Linked DNA regions of Homo sapiens: regions 1 and 2 are each linked to region 3. The links come from fine-mapping of genetic effects on gene expression. A gene starts in region 3. Each other region holds a variant in brackets. All regions are shown on one strand. Distances are between the middles of the regions.

Region 1 (7,538 bases), 31 kb after region 3:
CATGTTTATATGCCAGCCAGGTCCCATGCTGAATTCTTCATGTATGATCTGCCTTCATCCCACCACCATTTACACCATTGCCTGTGGCTTCAGACAATCTAGTTTCAGTGAACATTTCAAACTGCAGAAGAGCACCATCTCCCTTCACCACCACCTCCCCACCACTGTGGTCAGCTGAATGAGCCTCAAGGTGGGGTTTGCTGTAAGGTCACTGCCAGGCCAGTGCTTGGGACCCTCTCTCTACAGGGGAGGAAGGGCGACCGGCCTCGCTCCTGCTGGGGCTGTTGGTTGTACAACTTACCGGAATTGTGCACTCTTAGCTTTGGCTTAAAGAAATCTGTGATGCCAGAGGGCTAAATACATCATGCTGTTGCATTATTGGTCTTCCAAAGAAGCAAGTGCAGGACCACATGATGGTGTGTCGTGTGCTAACCTATTTTAGAATTTTACAGTTGACTGAGTCTCCCAAGAAGAAATCCTGAGGCTGCTCTATAGAAATTTTCTATCAAGTAATGAAATCAGTGAGGGTGCTTTGCTGGGGTGATTGGTAGGGTCTCTGGACAAGAGCGTTCCTTCAGAGTGTTGGTGGGGAGGTGAGCAGGGCTTGGGATGTGTGTTGGTGTGGGGCTGTTTAATCTCAGGCTCTGCCTCTGAATTTCCTAGAGACAGGATAAAGCCACGATTCCTGGCCTTTGAAAACCATTGACATAGTGAAATTCCTGCCGCCTCTCTTTCTCGCACACCTAGTTTGGAACGCTGGTGTTTCCCAAGTCTAAGCCTAGAGAGCCGTTCAGAGCTGACCTCTGCATGCATGCTCTGAATTCTAAAAGTGAAATGCTTTAATTTATTAAGGAATGTTGTAGCTTTAGGTTCTGTGGGGGAGGGAAAAGGATTAAACTAGGGAAAGCTTGATTCTGTAGGAAACAAAAAAAATAGTATTTACTCAGAAGCAGCAAAGCCCCTACATCTCTGGATGCAGTAACTATGTCTGCAGGAAGCTGGTGATAACACTATCTGGAAGGCACTTTTAAAGTCTGTTATCTCTAGGAGCTTGTTTTATTCTGGTAGTTGGAATGTTCACCATTTGGAGTTAGTTGAGTGAAGAATTCAGGAAATCAGATTGGAAAAAAGCATTATCCAGTTGAGAAGACACATGGACCCATGCAACAAGCATTCTGAAAGAAAAAGCCTACTGCTGCAACACAACGGTATAATTTCCCTTTGTCTGTAACTTTAAAAAAAAAAACTTACATATGAGACGTCCGAGAAAGCCACCCATAGGTGAACTACGCGCATAGGTGAACTAGCTTACTCCATTTATGATGGATTCGGCGATTGCCTAAAAATTCTAGTCAAAACCACCTCTACATATAGAATGATCTCCTACATGGTTAGAAGGCTGGTTATTTTGACACAGCTCAAAACAATTTCGAATAAGTTGAAATGACTTCAGAGCCTGTGGCATGTTCTTAGATGTGATCGAATGACTCAACGTAAAAAATTCTGTCCGACGATGGATCCGATACAGCCAACGAGGAGCTCTAAGGTTCATCTTGTGAGTCAGAGTCAACAAGACAGAGAATGTTACTTTGGCCAAAAAACTGAGATAAGGTTAAAGGTTTTATGCTCTGTTTTTCCTATGTGAGTCATAAAACTGGCTTGGAAGGCAAATTCCAAAAGGGTGTTTTAGGAAACGTCTGGGCTTTGGCTGTAGTAAGATAAATATTCAGCCTTCTAAGAAGACTTCAAAAGAGAAAACTCATCTGAATTTCTACGTTGTAGTACGTTTGGGCAAAATGAGTCTTCCTAATTTAGTAATATCTTCCTTGTTGGTGAAAGACGGCTTAGAACTGCGGCTGGTAGTTGCTTTTCACATGTTCCATGGGCGTCGTGACTTTGCAAATTAAAGAATGAGTCATTTCCTAGCAACTTAGCTCACGCATGCACTAGACAGGGAGCATTGGAGGTGGCACTCAGAAAGCCCTCCCTTTCTATTTTTTAATGGCTTTCTTTGCCACATGCATCTATGCAACACAAAATAATGAAATTACTTTCAGAGAACATTTTACTTTTCAAAATGTTGTGGTTTGCAGAGCAGTTTTCTTACTACTCCAGAAGCAAGAGGATTCGTTAACATGTTTGATTAAATCCGTATTTAAATTCTGTGAACTCATGCAGGGAAAGGAAATTGTATGGTTCCCACTATGGCATATTAACTAGTAAAATGCTGGGTGGCGGTTGACTTGGAAGCAGCGTCCGGGATAGCGCGTGCTCCAGGAATACTCTGAAAGCTGATGCCGTTAGGGGTGCATGGTTGACTCCTGGGCCTGAGACGGCCTCAGGATGCTGCAGCGGCCTTGGCATCCTCTTCAGCAGGGTGGCGGCCGGAACTGGCACCTTCCCCCCGGTCTCTTTATTTACCAAAAAACTGCATGCACAGAAATGACCGCAACAGCTCTGGGTGTGGGAATGTAGGAACTGTCTGTTTCAGTTTTGCCGGAGCCCCAGGTTTACGGCCGCTCTACATCCCAGTCCTCTCAGGGAGGTCCCGGTTTCTGCTGCAGTTCAGGCCCCATCATGGGTCATCTTTTCTCTCCTCCTGAGATGTGGGCTTGGAGGATGGGAGGTCGTGCCTCTAAGAAGGGTCCGTTTCACGGTGGCCCAGGCTACATGCCTGCTTCCTTGTTTCCTTGCCCCCCCGAGCTTCATGGAAGTCAATCTGGAAAGTCAGGATCACTGCAGATGGCAGTTTGTTCAGTGTTGCTCCCAGACCTGAAGAATGGAGCGCTCTGTTGTGCTTGCAGAATGAAGCATAATTCTTAGCAGAAACCTGGGAGGCCGGGTGCGGCGGCTCATGCCTGTAATCCCAGCACTTTGGGAGTCCGAGGCGGGCGGATCACGAGGTCAGGAGATCGAGACCATCCTGGCTAACACGGTGAAACCCCGTCTCTACTAAAAATACAAAAAATTAGCCGGGCGTGGTGGCGGGTGCCTGTAGTCCCAGCTACTAAGGAGGCTGAGGTGGGAGAATGGCAGGAACCCGGGAGGCGGAGCTTGCAATGAGCCAAGATCACGCCACTGCACTCCAGCCTGGGTGACACAGCGAGACTCCGTCTCAAAAAAACAAAAAACAAAAAAACCTGGGAGTTTGGGGTGGTAGAGATCACTGAAACTGCAACCCCAAGGCTAGGTTATCTCTTTATTTATGTATCCACCCACCCGCCTACCTACCTATTGTACTTACAATATTCTGAGGATTATGGCCTCCAAGAGTCATTCATGGCTTTGCACATGACCGTCTGTTACCAGTGAGTCCTTGTGTGGACAGAGCATCCGCAGCAGGACAGAACATAAACGGTGCCTCCCAGGGTGCCCTGTGCAGAGGCG[A/G]GGTCTGCATCCGACCTCACACTTGCTCACCCTCGCCCTCCGGGGGACGGCTACACTGGGCTCATCTGCACTGCAAGGGAAATCTGTTTTCAGAGCAAGGGGAGACAATAATAATAATAATAATCCCTAGAGTGAGACTGGGCTGTGTTTAGAAGATGTTCTGCTGTTTTGCCATGGAGGTAGGGGGCCTGGTGATGGGCAGTCCCTGTACCAGCCTGTGAGCCAGGGCCTGGGTGCCTGGGGGGTCTCGGGAGGTGCAGACGGGGCTGCCAGCGCTGAAATGAACCAGCTCTGTTTTGGGTTCTGTTCCATTCCAGACTGTTTTCTCCTTTCTTGTTTATTACATGTATGACACTAAATTATAAACACACATGTGGCCAGGCATGGTGGCTCACGCCTGTAATCCCAGCACTTTGGGAGGCCCAGGCAGGCAGATCACTTGAGGTCAAGAGTTGGAAACCAGCCTGGCCAACATGGTGAAACCCTGTCACTACTTTAAAACAAAAACAAAATTAGCCAGATGTGGTAGTGTGTTCCTGTAATCCCAAGTACTCTGGAGGCTGAGGCAGGAGAATTGCTTGAACCTGGGAGATGTAAGTTGCAGTGAGCCGAGATCGTGCCACTGCACTCCAGCCTGGGCAACAGAGCAAGACTCTGTCTCAAAAATAAAATAAAATAAACACACATATATATATAATATTTCTGGTAGAAATTTATAAATATAAGTATACAAATTGGCCAGCTATCAAGGTGCCTGCACTATTGATTAATTTATATATAGAACTCCATAATCTATGAGTCATTTCAATTTTAAAAACCTTTCTTTTTTCTGTCCTCCGGACCTTCACTAAGGTGGGCTTATGGATCCAACAATAATCTATCATGAACTTTTCTAAATCCTTAATAGTTATTCCTTCTTAAGATTAAATGCTGTGGAAAGTGAGTTATGTAGATGAAGTTACCCGTGGGCATTGCTGCATTTCCTGATCTTGTATATTCCGTGGAGAAAAAGATGGGGATGCATTTAGCATTGAAAGGTAATTGTTGGCCAGGCGCGGTGGCTCACGCCTGTAATTCCAGCACTTTGGGAGGCTGAGGCAGGCGGATCATGAGGTCAGGAGTTTGAGACCAGCATGGCCAACAAGGTGAAGCCCCGTCTCTACTAAAAGCTACAAAAATTAGCCAGGTGCAGTGGCAGGCACCTGTAATCCCAGCTGCTCAGGAGGCTGAGGCAGGAGAATCACTTCAACCCGGGAGGCAGGTTGCAGTGAGCCGAGATCGCGCCACTGCACTCCAGCCTGGGTGACAGAGTGAGACTCCGTCTCAAAAAAAAAAAAAAAAAAGGTAATTGTCCTTGGGCTTCTTCTATCAATGTGTCCTCACATATTGATATCTGATTCCCTAATGCAGCACCGTGTCATTAATGGAGGGTAAGGCAGACAATTATTATTCAGCTGTGCTGTTTAATAATATTCAACATACATCCCAAGTGGCGCAGGGTGCCTTGGCAGGCGGAGCCCCTGACAAAATGCTCCCATGTATGTCCCGTGCTCGACAGTGCTGTGTGCCTGTGAGTTTGTGCTGAAGTATGATAAACACGTTGGGTGAAAGTGACCCCTTTCAACCTCTAGCGAAACACGACCCTTTCAACCTCTCGGGAAACGCTGGGCCATAGGAGAATGGCTTGATTCCTCATTGCACTGTGAGGCTGAGTCTAGGCAGACGTTCCCATTACTAGGGACTCAAGGTGAGGACTTTCCCACAATTCACTGCTTTTATCCAGTGCTGGAACTGCCCTGTCTTCTGACCAGTGGATGCTGAGGAACTGACATTCACTGTCATTTTTCCCGTTTTATATAATTTAAGGATCACTTCCCATTTAGTGAAGTTTATCTCATTTTTAAAAGATTCTCCCTTTCTCCCCTAGGGCTACCAGGGCATGGTGGACGGAGGCTCAAACATCGCAGAGGCCGACTGGGAGAGTGTCTCCAGCATCCTGCAAGTGGTAGGTACTGGGCTGCGTCCACAGGGTTCTCTGAGTTAGAGACTCTTTTATGTCTAGTAAATTCCCAGAACACTTGAGCTCAGATCAGTTGCGAAATAGAGATTATGTGGACAGAACAGACTTTGTGAGCAGCTCTTTACTTGTGGTTTGATTTTTAGAAATGCATGTGTTAATCTGTGAGTCACTTTGAGTACTTGTTAATAGAAATAATCCAAATCGGTGCCTCCCCGCTGAAGACGCTCATGGGGCCCACACCTTCGTGCTGGTCCAGGCTCTCTCTGCATTGGGCGCCTCCTGAGCTCCGACACATCAGAAGAGAGGTGGAGGGAATTTTGACAACCACGGAAGTTAGGTGGAGCAACGTTTGCAAAACATCAGGAGAGTGTGGGCTGAATTCACACAGGGGAGCGTTTCCATTCTGCGGTCGTGATTGACGGAGGAAGATAAGATGTGAACGGAGAGTTGAAGTGCGTATGTGTATCAGTGAGTCTGTGTTTCTGTGTGTGGTGTATGTGGTGTGTGAATCTCGGTGTGTGTGTAACTGTGTGAGTCTGGTGTGTGTCTGTATGTAGGTGTGTGAGTCTGAGTGTGTATGTGTGGTGTGCCCGTGTGTATGTGTTAACTGTGTGAATTTCTGGCTAGCGAATGTGTATCTGTGTGTGGGGTGTGTGTATATGTGGTGTCCTTGTATGTGTAGGTGTGTGGTGTGTGTGTGTGTGTGTGTGTGTGTGTGAAAGAGAGTGAGTGAGAGAATGGGAATGGCACCCACTCCTCTGCAGCCCAGTTATCCTGGTTTCGTTCCTGAGTTGCGGCCACCTCGTCTCTTTGGTTGGAGTTTCTGGGTTGCTGGCTCTAGCTCCCATTGTGCTGGCTCTCGTGCTGCCCCCCAGGTTTTTGTCCAGGCAGAGTCCAGAGAGCACCCCTGCCCTGCTCTGCGCCCCCACCCTCACTTGCCTTGGGGGTTGGGTTGTAAATGGTCTCGGTCACACTTGGTGCCAGTGACGTAGGATCGTGTGGAGTGAATTTCAGTTTTTGTAACCTTTTCATAATGTTTTGATAAATTAAATGGTGGTAGGTTTCATGTAAAAATAGGAGCTTTTCTGGGATTTGGAATATTAGTGAGTCTCTGTGTGTGAAAATGAGCTGTGTGCGTGCACCATTGGTGTATCGAAACACGCACTCACGTCACTGCAGGGGTCTCCTGGGAGCTGCCTGCAGACCGAAGGCAGGGAGAGCTTCGCCTCCAGTGCAGAGACAACCCCTGCTGTGCTTATGAGCACCTTGCTTGACAAAGTCAGCACGCGCTTAGGGATCCCGTACGGATGGAGTTTTTTGGTGCATTCATGGTTTTATTTAAAGAAATCTTGCATTTGTGGATCCCACCAACAATTCTTAGTTTTTGGAAAACCAAGTGTGACGAATCATGATCTATGTCCCCTGGAAGTTTGGATGAAAGAATTTAAGATCCTGAAGATATAGCTCTTTAAAAGGGGCAGCGAGTATGTGGTGCAAAAAAAAAAAAAAAAAAAATCCCCCTGGCCCCAGGTTCCTGCTGGTTTTACTTGCAGGTGCTGTAAGGGGTGACTGGAGGGAGAAGCCTGGCTGCTGGTCACACCGCTTCCCTTGTCCTGGCCGGCATGCTCTGGTGGTCAGTGGGCTTGTCTTTGGTTCCACGTGCACCTGGTTGAGCTCGTTGGCCGGTGCTGAGGCGGCTGCTGTGACACCGCAGGCTGGTTCCTGCTCCATGTATTTAACTGCTGGCTGCCGTGTGTCTGGCTCTGCACCCTCCCTGGCTCCTCCTGGGTGTCACGCGCCTGTCTTTGTCCATGGAATGCTGGTCTGGGACTAAAAACAGGAAAATCACAGTCTTTCATAGCTAGTTACTAACTCACAAGATGAAAATGAGAAAAATGTAAATTCTAGCACCCCATGTTTATAGTCGGCCTGTGTGTGCCATCCACCTGGCGCTCTCTCAGACTGAGAGGAGATAAATTAGCTGGTGTCTTTCCCAGGGCGGGACGATCATTGGCAGTGCGCGGTGCCAGGCCTTCCGCACGCGGGAAGGCCGCCTGAAGGCTGCTTGCAACCTGCTGCAGCGCGGCATCACCAACCTGTGTGTGATCGGCGGGGACGGGAGCCTCACCGG
Region 2 (6,164 bases), 55 kb after region 3:
TGTTTTGAGATGAGATTCCTGGTCATTCTGCCATCTGCCAGCCACAACGGCATGAGTGAAAAGGCAGACGTTTACCGCTCCTTAATTAAAACCACAGACTGGGGAAGGCGGCCGGGTGGGGACCGGCGTGGCGTCCTGCGGACCGCGTGGAGTTTGGGGTGTCTGACATCGTTCTCCACGTGGCTATTTTCAGCGTTCTCCCGGGGAAGTACTTGGAAGAGATCGCCACACAGATGCGCACGCACAGCATCAACGCGCTGCTGATCATCGGTGGATTCGAGGTACGTTACCGTTTCTCTCTTGCCGGTCTTGCAGGTGTGAGCCGCGCCCTGTGTTGGCTAAACATTAAGCTACTTGTTGGCTACTGGCCACGATCCGAGATGATAGGTTCCCAGACCCAGCGGCCACTGGAGAATTGTAGAACAGCAGGATAGCAGGTGGTAAGACGTGGCCTACGAGTGGCCCAGTTCCAGTAAAGCAACTTAACCGAGAAGCAAAAGCTTGACTCCTTAACCCGGGCCTCATCTATTCAGTGAGCTCTTAATGTATTTCAGGCCTGTGGAAGTAATTCTATCTCTTGAGTCCAGAGTCCAGTGGCTACTTAGAGACTAAGGTAGTTATACCTAGAATTTTGTTTAAAATCACATATTGGACTGTAGACCCTAATATTTTTTCTATTCATGAAGATTAGTCCCATGGTAACCTTTCCATTTACTTTTAGAAAAAGTAAAAACTGGCCGGGCGCGGTGGCTCACGCCTGTAATCTCAGCACTTTGGGAGGCCGAGGCGGGCAGATCACCTGAGGTCAGGAGTTCAAGACCAGCCTGACCAACATGGTGAAACCCCGTCTCTACTAAAATATAAAAATTAGCCGGGTGTGGTGGCAGGTGCCTGTAGTCCCAGCTACCCGGGAGGCTGAGGCAGGAGAATCGCTTGAACCCGGGAGGCGGAGGTTGCAGTGAGACGAGATTGCACCACCTCACTCCAGCCTGGGCCACAAAGCGAGACTCCGTCTCAAAAAACAAAAACAAAAACAAAGTAAGAACCTCAGAAATGAGACTCTTACCCATGAGAGGTTTAGTCATCTAACCGATCATGTCTGTCCTGCGCCCTTTGTGCTTACAACCTGCCGATCCTTGTCTGTGGTCTTAAGGCAACTGTGTGTTGATCTCGGAGTGTTTTCGTGATGCCCCAGTGTGCTCCCTGCGTGCTGTGGTGGAGGTGGCGCTCCCAGCCTCTCCCAGCGAGACCCTCTCCTCCCCAGCTTCCCTCTCGCCCCACAACTCCCACGCTTGTCTGACAGGCCTACCTGGGACTCCTGGAGCTGTCAGCCGCCCGGGAGAAGCACGAGGAGTTCTGTGTCCCCATGGTCATGGTTCCCGCTACTGTGTCCAACAATGTGCCGGGTTCCGATTTCAGCATCGGGGCAGACACCGCCCTGAACACTATCACCGACGTAAGTCCGTGTGCGCCCTGCCAGGCGGGCGCCGGCTGACGCTAACCCCGGGGCCCCGGCCCTTTTTATCTACCAGTGCGCTAGAAATAGCCTTTTACAAATACCCTGAATGAGAGCTTCTCGTTCTTTTTTTCCCCCAGAAAAGTATGTTTTAAGACTCTGAAAATTTTTGATCTCACTCCCAGAGAGTTTTACCACCTCTTCTTCTGTGTGGCCACCAGGGGGACGTAGTGTGGCCGAGACTCCAGGGGTGCCCGTGAGCACCCGAGGCGCTGAGGAGGGCTGGGTCGCAGTCTCCTGTGATTGTACCAGCATTAAAAATCGCTGTGTGTGTGTGTGTGTGTGTGTGTGTGTGCTGAGCCTAAATTTTCTTTGAGCCTCCAATACCCATTATGATGAACCCCTGCCTTGATGCTGAGGGTAGAAATTGAACTGAATATTTTATAATTTTATTCATTGCCCTGAATGCACCATTGCATTTGTTATCTCTCTGGTCTTGGCTGTTGACCTCATTTTCCCCTTTGTAAACTGGGGATGTTAAATTACCTCTAAGGCAATAATTGGTGCTACTTTAGTTTTTTTGCCAAGAGACAATAATAAAACATAGAAATATATTCTTCTTTTTTTCTTTGTGGGACGGGGTCTTACTCTGTCACCCAGGCTTGAGTGCGGTGGTGTGATCTCAGCTCACTGCAGCCTCGACCTCCCGGGCTCAGGTGATCCTCTCACCTCAGCCTCCCGAGTACCTGGGACCACAGGCATGTGCCACCATTCCCGGCTAAAAGAAATATACACCTATTCCCATGTTTGTGTGTCACGCTTGGTAATTGATGTGGGAGTTTGAAGATCCGTACCTAACACAGAAAGCATTTCATTTTTTTAAAATTTGATGTCTAAAAGTTTGTAGTAATTCTCAAGTTTTAATTTTTCTTGTGAGACTTGGTTCTCATGAATATTTTTCAAAGATATTTTTTCTTGTAAAACCTTGGCATGAAACTTATTTCTAGCACTGGTAAATAAAAAAACAAGCTTTTAACATACAGCTCATATGGTAAGTAATGCTTAGCACTCGTTTCTTGCTTTTCTGAGCGTTTTAAACTTTCTTCACTTTCTTTGCGAAGGAAACCTGCCCAGGTTTTCCTGTGTTCACTGGCTTTGGGGGCAACTTTCACCTTATTTTTGGCAGTTGCTAATCTCTGACCTAGACGTTGCTTCTGTTCTCCTGGTGGTGGGTGTCACGGCTTTGCTGCTGCGGGGCTGGCCCGGCTCTGGACCTACCTTCGCACTGTGAATGTGAAGATGAGCCTCTTTCACAGACTGGATTCCGTCATTGCTTTCACTGCTCTTTCGCCTGCTTTAGCTAGATTTTTGGGTCTGTGAAAGTTGGGTGTGCAATGGGAGGGACTGAAGCTTCTTTTTTCCCTAATTGTTACCTAATTGGAACTCGCCCAGAGGGAACGGGTGGAGAATTTGAGAGCGGTCGCTGCAGTTAGCTGAGTTTCTTTTTAATTCCAGGGTCCTCTGCTATAAATAACT[GTTTTT/G]TTTTTTTTTTTTTCAGATTGTAAATATGTAACAAATGCATAGGGTCAAATTTATGAAAACCAAAATACGTGGGGCAAAAACACCCCACAAATGATCATTTCCACCTGCTTTTACTTCCCTTGGAGGGATTGTGTGATTTATTATGCGATTGTTTTAAATGCAGTTTTTCATTCATTCGAGTTTCTCGAAGCTAGGTTAAACAATTTCTTTTTTTTTCTTTTTTTTTTTTTTTTTTTTTTTTTTTCTTTTTTTGGAGACAGGGCCTCACTCTGTTTCCCAGGCTGGAATGCAGTGCTGCAATCGCTATTCACTGCAGCCTCGACCTCCCAGGCTTAGGTGATCCTCCCACCTCAGCCTCCTGAGTAGCTGGGACTACAGGTGGGTGCCACCGTGCCCAGCTAATTTTTTGTATTTCCATAGAGACGGGGTCTCCCTGTGTTGCCCAGGCTGGTCTCAAAACGTCTGGGCTCAAGCAATCCCCCTGTCTTGGGCTCTCAAAGCACAGGGGTTACAGGGATGAGCCACCGCGCCGGGCCTGAAGTTAACTGATTACAATGTCTGAGAAAGAACTGGAGCGTGTAGTTAGTTGAGCCTCCCGTTGGCCAGGCACAGCCACCTTGGTAAGTGCATGTGTGTGTCCTTGTTGCCCTTCTGATCCTGAGCTCCAAGGAACAAGGCTGTCTTGGGAGTGCGGTGGTTCTAGTCTCGTGATGGGTGAGTGGCGCCGTCTGACCGAGGTCACCCTGGCGAATGCTGTGGCTGCTGGGGAGCTGGGACAGAGAAGAGAAAGCCGCTGAGGGTCCCTCTGTGGACCCTGAAGGGAGAGGGACCGATATGTGAACATGGCAGCTGTTTTCTCCAGAGCCCTGTTTACTGACGGCCGAACAGTGTGAATCCTGAGAAGGTTTGGATTTGGGTCTGAACTGGGCTCGTCTGGCCATAGAAGAACATGAGCTGGTGGCGTCCTCAGGAAATCAGGGTGTGAGGCAACTGGACGTGGATGGCTCCGGGTCCCCCCGGCCACTGTCCTGAAGCCGCCGGAGGCTGAGGACGCATGGGAGTGAGCGTCTCTTCCCTGTCCGGCCACACCCTCTGTGACTGGTGACTCATGGCATGGCCCTGGGCAGCATTTAGGTTTGAGGTCTGTAGATGGCTCCAGTATACTGGCTTCTATTGTTCAGAAAATTTGGTGATTCTCATGGGGGCAGGGGTGGTGATTTTGCCCCAGGGGATGTTTGCAACGTCCAGGGAGGTTTCTGGTTAGAAGTGGGAAAAGGGATGCTCCCAGCATCTGGGGCTGGAGACAAGGGACGCTGCGGAACGTCCCTCAGAGCACAGGGTGGGCTCCATAATAGGAGTCTGGCTCAGGATGTCGCCGTGTTGTGCTTCGGAAGCCCTGGGCGGGGCTGATGTGGTGAAGCCTCATCTTCTCTGGACACGTGCGTCCTCGTCCTCTCTCATGATTTCCTTCTTGCCAGCATTGATGCTTAGCCCCTCAGAATCTATGCGGTGCTGGTGAGTGGTCCTCCGGGCAGAGCAGAAGGAATGAGATACCTCAGAGCCGGTGTGACACGTTCTCAGGATACGGCTGCAGGGAGTTTCAGTCCGACCCTTTCATTCCTTAGCACTGGCCCATTACTCCGTCCTGTAAGCTCGATAAGGTCACATCAGAAGCACAGTAAGCTGCTGCCACGCTGCCGTCAGCTGCCGCGAAGGTGGCAGTGACCACAGCCTCGTGACTGATTCACAGCCTGGCTGCGCTTGGTCTTGAGAATTTTATGTTTTGCTGGGCAGGGTCTCCCCCGTATTGAAGCTTCCCTTCCCTTTTTTGGAGACTGAAGGAAGGAAAAGAGGAGTGATAGGGAAGAGGGGAGAGAGGATTTGCAGCATTGTGGCTGTCCCCACAGATTTCAATGTGGAGTTAAGCTGCCGAGACCCCCACCTGCCCTCCTGTGTGCCTCAGGCCCCTCCTGGTCCCAGGTCACCCACACCGTCTGGCTTCCAGCGAGCGCTTCTCGGAGAAACAGCCGGCTCCCCACAGCCAGTCTTGGTCAGTCCTGAGCTCGGGTATTCCACAGTAAAGTGAGCGACATCACCTGTCTGAAAAGCATAAGGAGACTCCCACGTGGCGGTGCTGAGGGGCCACATCCTGGGCACCAGGCCAGCCAGTGCCCCGACATGAGTGTTGCTGGCTGGGAAGCAGCTGGCATTTGGATTGAAGTCCTGCAAAAACTGCCATGGCCAGAGCCTGCCAGGCAGAGCCTGCACAGAGCGGCCCAAGAGCTGGGCACGTGCTGGGCCTGGGTGGAGGTGGAGGCTGTGCCATGGGGTGCGGGGGACCCTGCTCACAGCTCACCTTGTGGTCACCCAGCACTGACCCCGTTCACAGCTCGCCTTGTGGTCACCCAGCACTGACCCACCCGCCCCACCCTCCTATCCACCGTGCTGTGAACTCACCTGCCACGGGTCTACACCCACTGTCCGAAGCCCTCGGCCCACACGGGCTCCAGGCCTTGGGATGCTTTGCGTTGCACCAGGGCTGCAGAGCCCAGATCGCTCACTGTCCGACTCTCCCAGGGAGGTGTGGGCGCCGCCCTGTGTCCCACCAGTAGCATTTCTGCAGCAGATGTGGGGATATTCACAGTAAGACGGACACGTCCAAGACCATAAATAGTTGGTTTTGCCACCACGTGGATGTCAAAAACACCTTGCTGTGTGGGGCCACTTGGAGGTGGGAACAGTGGGCGTGTGGACCTGTCCTGCTGTGACTTTGGTTAACACCCTGAGGTGGAGTCTGAAAAACCCCGGTGTACACGGGCTCAAGAACCGCTCCCCTTTCTGATACCGGAGCGCATTTCCCAGTGGAACCCCAGAGCAGCAACTCAGGTTCTTGCTCGCCTGTGCGGCTTTGTGTGCGGCTTGCCGAGGGCAGAAACGGCAGCTTCCGCCCGGAGAGCAGAGATGTGGCGTGGGGCTGAGTGTGGCCCACCGGTAATCCAGCTGCATGCCCCCTTCCCTGCCTGCACCTGGGCGCCGCCTCTGCACGATGAAGGCGGGCATTTGGTGTGGTCCTTACAGCCGTGTGCCCCATCCCACTGATCCTTGCCTGCCTGCAGAAAGCTACAGGATTGGCTTTGCCTTTAAGTGTCCTGACTGCCCTGGCCTC
Region 3 (7,538 bases):
CAGGGTGATCTGGGGAGGCCTCACCATGCAGGAGACCTTGCAGGACAGACCTGAGGAAGGTGGGAAGAGTGGGTAGGGAGAGGAGGGCCCGGGCTGAGGAAAGAGCAGGCTGGGCCTGAGGTTGTCGGGTGCCTGCATGGGTCTCTGGGCAGCACTAGGATCCGATGGACCAGTGGGCCATGTGTGGGGCCTGTGACTCCCAAGTCAGCAGAGGAGATGCCTGAATTACATCCTGATAGGTGCACCCTGACTTTGAAGCTGAGGACACCCGAGGCATGGAGGTGGGGTGGAGGTGGGGGCAGAGCAGGGGATGGGGAGGGAGCCTGTGTCAGTCCAGGTCACAGGTGGTAGCTTGGCCCCAGTGGCTCCAGATGCAATGAAGAGCCAGGAGGGACCTTCCTGAGAGACTTGGATGCCAGGGTAGAGGAGCACTGCAAGGCTTCAGCCTGAGACCCTGGGAGGATGGGGTCACCAGGAGCTGAGGTGAGGAAGACCGAGGGGTGGGGGGTTGCGTGGGGGTGCAGAGGCCTAAGCTCAGTTTGGCCCCTGCAGATTTGAGATGCCTACTCCATGCACAGGCAGAAACAGCAGGGGAAGGGAAGAGGCTGCAGCTCAGGTAGCCCTGGTGGTGGAATGTGCAGCCCAACATGCCGGAACACAGGGTTATGGTGCCCTCATGGCTAGGAGCTGCTTTCCTCCTGGGATGGCAGGACTCCTTTAGGGCACATGGGCAGCTCCTGCGCTCACCGCAGAGGGGAAGTGGGAAGGGCATCTGTCCCTATGCATGTTCTCCTTCACCTTGTCCTAGGCAGGTCCCAGGCAGCACCTCCCCTCCCAGTGGCTCCCCGTGGCCCCTGCCCCTAGTGTTCACAGCCAGATCCTCGAAGAGGGCTGGACTCCGTTGCTCACTTCTAATGAACAGAATCAGGCAAAAGAGACGGCGGTCTTTCCTGAGATTGGATTGGGAAGGGCTGCAGGTTCCGTCCACTGGAATTCTCCCCCTGGCTCTTGACATGTGCTAGTTCTGGCAAAGCCAGTCACCTGCCCAGGGCAGAGGGCAGCCTGAAGCTGATGCCAGGGACAGACTGGGGCCTTCAGTCCAACAGCCTGCAAGCAACAGAATCCTGCCAGCAACACAGGAGTGAGCGTGGAAGCAGCTCCTCCCATGATGAGCCTGAGCCTTCAGAAGACACTGTAGCCCTGGGCAGACACCTGTTGCAGCCACAGAGGGCCCCTGGGGCAGAGGGCCCAGTGAAGCCTGTCTGAACTCCTGGTCCAAGGAGTAATCATTCCTGTGGTATAAGTGTGTGCTGGTGTGGGCCACAGTTTGCAGTAATCTGTCAAGGGACAATAAAGAACAAACACACATGTCAGGTCCTACTGGGTGGAAGCCGTACAGTCAACAAGGCATGCAGTATCTTCCTCTTGAATTAGAAGATTCATTGCTCAGGCCAAAGATTAAACAACAAAAAAAAAATCTCTAGTTGTAGCACCATTAAAATACACGACTTGCAAAAAAAAAAAAAAAAAAAAAAAAAAAAAAGAGCCATAGCTATGCTTTTCCATCTTAGCTACAGGTATATATAAATATATGTTAATTCCTTGACTGACTGAGCAATGGGTCAAACTCATGAGAATAGATGTGTGAGGACGGTCAGTGACCACCCTGACCCCAGCCCTTACATACAGACAAACTTTTGAACATAATCCATAACCCTGGGGATCTGGACACTCTAAATTTTATTGTTTTTAATTAACTATTTCTATTCCCCAAACAATACCTGTTCATTGGAGAGAAAAATGGCATTACCTATACTAAGCAAAAGAAAGGAAATAAAATGCTCAGAAACATTTACGTGTGTGCACACTCACACACACACTTACACGCACACGTGCGCACATGCAAGCACAGGCTCACACTGTGTCCAGGCCTGCCTTTTCATTTATTTGTTTGACCTGAACATATTTCCATGTCAGTCGACACTTATCTTCGTAGTGGTAACAGCAATTAAATATTATCGCAGCGTATATTTTTAACCATCATTTATTTAACTCGTCATGTTTGAACTGTTAGGTTGTATTTATCGTTTTCTGTATTACAGACGACTTGATGACAAATGACCAATCCTCTAATGTTCAATATAAAAATATCAATTGCATAAGGAGATAAGGGGCATTTGGCTAAAATAAAATTCAGTGTGCCCCACCCTCTCCACATGTAATTTGCTCTAAAAAGGCATGAATGACTAAATTAGCCCTTCTATTCTCCAGCGCAGCTCCTGAGCCCAGCGGTGGGTGCAGGTGCTTAGAGCCTGGCTCTGCTCTTCTGCCGCCAGAAGGCGAAGGGCACCCAACCCAGGATTCTCCTCTCCTTTTTTATTAATAGAAGAGTGCTCAGGCTCAGTGCATGAGAGCAGCGCTCTCTGACTTTGCACTTATCAGAGTAACCTAGGGGGCTTGTTTAAAAATACACATTCCCTGGCTGAGCTCCCAGAAATTGGACTTCAGTGGTTTAGCGGGAGTGTGCATAGGCCAGGTGATTCTGAGGACCAACAGGGGTTAGGAATTGCCCCGTTAATTCTGGCCAAGGGAGAGATCAGACCATCCAGCATTGTCCGCAGCAGAGTTTTTCCCCCTCTTTTGCAATGAATATTTGATGCTCAGAGGGATGAGCCCCAGGATGAGGCACACATCCAAGAAAAATCCATGCCTCTCCATCTTTTCCCCAGGATTGCCCTAAGGCGAGCCGCTCTTTGTGATTCCTTCACTTTCCCCGGTTCATAGAACAGGCCTCTTCTTAGTCTGTTTTGTTGTCTCTTATCTGTTCAACAAACACCCACTGCGCAGGACCATCCTCCGGTGAGCCGTCGAGTGGGGCCGTTTGGGAGCCCTTCTTCGTGGGTGAGCACTGAAGGAACCCGGGTCCCATAAGCCCGTGCTTCTATGGGGGCTGCCCCCTCTCCCATCGCAGGGTAACTGGCACCAGGCTGTTAAGCTGTGGATGGGCAACCGCACAGTGCATTGGATGTGAGTATTTCAGTACGTGGAGCTGGCCAGTGGAGCCGGCCGAGGTCAGGCAGAGCGTACAGCAGCGCGCGTGTCCGTGGGGAGGGAGGGTCCTCCCGCCTCCCCGCCTCCCCGCCAGGCCAGTCCTGTTGCGCCTCCTCCTGCCCCACTCTGACTTTCCAGCGCCCAGGCCGGGGCGCCGCCAGGGCGTCTCTGAGGGTCGCGCCCCGATACCTTCCTCCACCCCACGGCTTCTTCCCCCCAAGGGCGGGGCTGGGGGCCCAGGAGCACCACAGCCCCCATGGGCCCGGGAAATGGCAGCTTCGTCATGGCCCAGCCCGCCACGCTCACCTTTTCCCACCACCTGGAGGATCCACTCTCCGTCCGTCCTTCCCGACCTCAGGCTGCAGAGGAAACCTGGGGGCGGGGGTCGAGGAAGCCGAGCCCCGAGGCTCCCAGCGCCGCCCCAGGAGGAATCTTGCGGGCCACTAGAAGCTGTGCGCGCGGCCGGGCTCGGCCCCCACAACGGCCCGAGCGGCCGGGCCTGCCGCGAGCCTCCGCGTCCAGGTGGGGTCTCCGCGCCCCCATTCCACCCCTCCCCGCCATCGGCGCTCCCCGCAACTGCGGGGTTTCCACCCGCCCCGGCGCTCGCGCCCACTCACGGTCTCCCTCGCCCCCCCGGGAGATGCTCCCGGCGTTCTATCCCGCCCCGCCCTGGCGCGCCCCGCAAACGATGTGACCCCGGCCCCCTGCGGTCTCCCCTCCTCCGGACGCTGCCCCTGCCCCACCTGTGGCGCTCCCGTCATCTCTAGAGCCCCCAACCAGAGTCCTCCAGCCCACCCGCGAGGCTCGCGCACCTGCGATGCGGCCCCACTAGCAGGGACCCGCCCACCTGTGGCGCTACCCCTGCCTCTGCCGCCTCCCGCACCGCTAGCGCGGCCCCCACCTACGACGACCCCCGCGTAGATGCTCCTGCCCACACCCGCCCCAGCCCCGGCCCCTGCCCCTAGCCGCGCCCGCGCCCCCTCCCCCGCAGCCCCTCCCATACGCTCGGGCCCCGCCCGTCACCGCCCATTGGCGCTGGGGCCGGGCGGGGGCGCGGGCGGGGCGGCGGTTCCGAGTCAGGCGCGCGCGGGCAGGGTCCCCATTGCCTGCTGCGCACCCGGACGTGCGGCTCCCCTCGGCCTCCTCGCCATGGACGCGGACGACTCCCGGGCCCCCAAGGGCTCCTTGCGGAAGTTCCTGGAGCACCTCTCCGGGGCCGGCAAGGCCATCGGCGTGCTGACCAGCGGCGGGGATGCTCAAGGTGCGCGCCCCCCTCCCGGCGGCGAGGGAGGGACGGACGGACGGAGCTGGGGAGAACCGGGCGAAGGCGATGGGGTGACCGGAGAGAAGAGGGGGGAAGCGATGGGGGGGACCCGGGGAAAGGTGGCGAAGCGATGGGGAGAACCGGGGAGAAGAGCGGGGAAGCGATGGGGAGAACCGGGAAGAAGCCCGCGCCCGGAAGCGGCAGGGGTACCTGCGGGGCGGCATGAGCCGGCGAGGCAGCCCCGGGGTCCTTGCCCGGTGGGGCGGGGGAGGAAGGGACATGGCGGTAGGAACCTCCATCCGGAAGATCAGTGAGTTTTCCACCTTCGGTTTTGTTTTAAATGGAACCTGGCAGAGGGAGTCGCCTGAAGCGCCCTCGGGGGTCGTTCTGCCTCTGAGCTGTAGGACGGGGCCGGGCGTCCCCTCCGAAGCGTGGGTACAGCGCGATCACTTCCTAAGTGCCCCCCCGCCCCCCAACTCCGCCGCACGCCACCCCCTAGAATGTCGAGGAAGAAACGGCTGGGTCCCCGCGCGCCTCCTGTCGCCTCGTGCCCTGCGCGGCGTGGGCGGGGTCCTGGCTGCTGCAATGCGGGACGCGGCGGGGGTGCGCGGGGTTCCCGCCTGGCGTCTCCAGGGCGGTCCGGCAGCCCCTCGCGTTTCCGCTGGGAGATTTTTAAAAAGGGTTTCCTGCGCTCGCATGTGCTGTCGCCTTCCGGCTCGTGACAAAAACGAAAACCAAAATGGGTCCCAGGCCCTCCCCGCCAGCCTCCGCAGACGGGAAGGATCAGGAAGCGGGGACTCCGGGATGTCAGCGGCGCCGCGGCGCGGGCTCCGGGCTTCCCTGCCCTGCAATGTGGAAGCTGCTCTCTAGGAGGGGCCCGAGGCTGGGCCCACGGACGCGGGCGCGCCGGGAGGATATTTAACATTGAAGAGCGGAAGGTGGCGGAGACTCGGCGCGCCCCAGGCCCCGGGTGCACGTGGGGGCGCCGGTGCCCGGATGATGGAGTGTCCCGATCCGTGCAATCCCTGGCGGGTAGATCGGCGCTTCCCAGGCGAACGCAACCTGGGAGCCTTAGCGATCGCGCAGGCTGGAGACGCGGCGCGCCCCGAGCTGGGTTTTGATTTTTGTTTTCCCGGTTCCTCCTGCCGCAGATGCGTGGAAAGGCCCGGATGGCGGATTTCCTCCCGTTTCGGGGCCGCGCACTGCACAGGGTTGGAGCGGGGATGCACCCCCTGCCCACTGCGCGGGTGACCTTCCCTTCGCCCTTGAGCGCGCGGGGCGGGCGCGGGTGCCGCAGGTTGAGGCGCTGTGGGCGCCGCCCCGCCCGCCACGAGCGCCTACGTGATGCCCGGCCCGTCGTCTCCACGAGCCCCGGCCCCGACACCCGTGCGCCGCGCGCTCCCCAGGCCCGCAGCGCAGCCTCCCCAGGCCCAGCGCCCCCCGCGGGAGACCCGGGTGGCAGCGCCAGGCCCCGCCCCGCAGCCCGCCCTGCAGCGCCCCCGGGAAGTGCTCTGGCGTTAGCATTCCAGTAAAAGGACCCCAGCATCAACGTTCTTCCTGCAGGGCTGGGTTCTCAGAGAAAGAAAACGTGATGCAGCAGAGGATGGGATTGAAGAAACAGGAGAGTGAAGTGGAAATAGCCTGGCCCGCGTGACTTAAACCGGCCCGGAGATGTGCGGGTACGAATGGAGCCGCCTTGGGGTCGGGATAGGACCCAGAGTGGCTTCTCAGTCAAAGGCCTTCAGAAGCAGAGGGAGCACCTTGAGTGACCTTACCTGGGCCGCGAAAGACAAGAAACCTTTGGCACAGGAAGAGGAACTGATCTCTGGAAGCCACCAGGGCGGGTGGAAAGTCAGGGTTTCAAGGTTATTTTGGAATTTAGGTGCTGTGGGCCTTGTACGGTGGCTCATGCTTGTCATCCCAGTGCTTTGGGAGGCCGAGGCAGGAGGCTCGCTTGAGCCGAGGAGTTCCAGAGCATCCTGGGCAACATAGTGAGACTCTGTGTCTACAAAAAAAAAGAAAGAAAAAAAATTAAGATACTGCATGTATTGGAAAATATTTATGGGTCATTCCTTTGAGCTCCATGTCCAAAAGCTTGCTAAAATGCGCGGGAGTTTGTGTACAGGCATGTGAGATTAGGATACATTGGCAGAATCGCGGTGTTCTCTGTTACCCTGGTTTTGCCACCTGGGAGGAGTTAGACATATTGAAGGTTAGTAAGTCCACGCCTCTTCTTTTCTGGGGAAAATGATACTTTGGAAACCAATATTATGTGGGGAACGCGGCTTGGTTGCTGCAACCTCGGGTTAATAGGAGACAGCTGCCCTCAGCTCTGCAGGTGGCATCAAATATGGTGGCCTCGAGCCCACATGGGTCACACCTGGGCTGTCCCTGGGGAAGCCCGCCATGGCGGGTCGCCTGGGCACTCTTTCCCTGGCAGAGCTGAAGTCACAATTTTTTTGTAGACTCTGTAAAGAGCTTTACCCTTCGGTGATACGATCTTGAACCTGTTGGAGCATTTGGACGCATTTCTTTTAAGGAAGTTCACCTCCAGATGTACTCAGAGGGCCTGGTCTTAGCTGCCACAGATTTACAAACCCTTACAGTAAGTAGGTTATTCCTCGAGAATATCTCAGTGTCCCCATTCTTTTACCATTTTATTCTGATTCTATGTTAGTACTTGATTTTCCCTGACATAGAAGACTATTGCTTGTAGCTAGAGATGAGAGAACATATTCACATTCACGTATTAATTTCAGGGGAATTTTCTGTCAGATGTGAAATTATGGTAAAATTCCGTATATTAAGATGATCATAGCTACCATTTGTTGAAAACATTTTGTATTCTAAGAGCTTTACACTTCTTATCTCCAAGCCTAAATACATGATCCCAAGAGAGGCGTGTCCTCATTTTGGAAGTGGGGAGAAAGACTCAGAAAGAAAAGTAAGTTAGGTAAGGGCATGAGGTGCATACGTGATTGTGATAGGAGCAAAACAGATCTTAATTCCAAATATTGTACTCTCCCGTAGACCACGAAGAGTACTTATGTCTGGCTGTGTCACCCAGGCCAGAGTGTAGTGGTGCCATCATAGCTCACTGCAGCCTCAAACTCCTGGGCTCAAGTGATCCTCCTGCCTCAACCTTCTGAGTAGCTGGGAAGACAGGAATGCACCATCATGACCAGCTAATTATTATTATTATTATTATTATTATTTTTGTAGA

What was found. PIP is the estimated chance that this variant, and not a neighbour inherited with it, causes the effect.
Region 1: its variant is fine-mapped to the expression of PFKP in whole blood (Lepik 2017, PIP 0.95).
Region 2: its variant is fine-mapped to the expression of PFKP in B cells (Fairfax 2012, PIP 0.95).

What each region holds. Positions count from the first base shown.
Region 1 is chr10:3,093,961-3,101,498 of GRCh38, forward strand. PFKP (phosphofructokinase, platelet) reads left to right here. Exons shown (of 22, transcript NM_002627.5): 3 at 5,315-5,392; 4 at 7,405-7,538. Among named protein-coding and RNA genes, the nearest start is that of PFKP, 30 kb to the left of the region's middle. RefSeq lists an enhancer at 1,191-2,390. The variant A/G (reference allele first, on the strand shown) is at 3,388.
Region 2 is chr10:3,118,589-3,124,752 of GRCh38, forward strand. It overlaps PFKP (phosphofructokinase, platelet), which reads left to right. Exons shown (of 22, transcript NM_002627.5): 15 at 194-281; 16 at 1,304-1,456. Among named protein-coding and RNA genes, the nearest start is that of SNORD142, 12 kb to the right of the region's middle. The variant GTTTTT/G (reference allele first, on the strand shown) is at 2,993.
Region 3 is chr10:3,063,396-3,070,933 of GRCh38, forward strand. PFKP (phosphofructokinase, platelet) reads left to right here and starts at 4,153. Exons shown (of 22, transcript NM_002627.5): 1 at 4,153-4,312. The coding sequence starts at 4,201. It overlaps LOC124902536 (wiskott-Aldrich syndrome protein family member 1-like), which reads left to right and starts at 3,175. Exons shown (of 1, transcript XM_047426132.1): 1 at 3,175-3,953. The coding sequence starts at 3,308. The coding sequence ends at 3,745. PFKP-DT (PFKP divergent transcript) reads right to left here and starts at 3,538. Exons shown (of 4, transcript NR_160681.1): 1 at 3,358-3,538. RefSeq lists enhancers at 1-391, 5,192-5,261 and silencers at 3,882-3,981, 3,992-4,391, 4,812-4,991, 5,405-5,585, 5,672-5,871.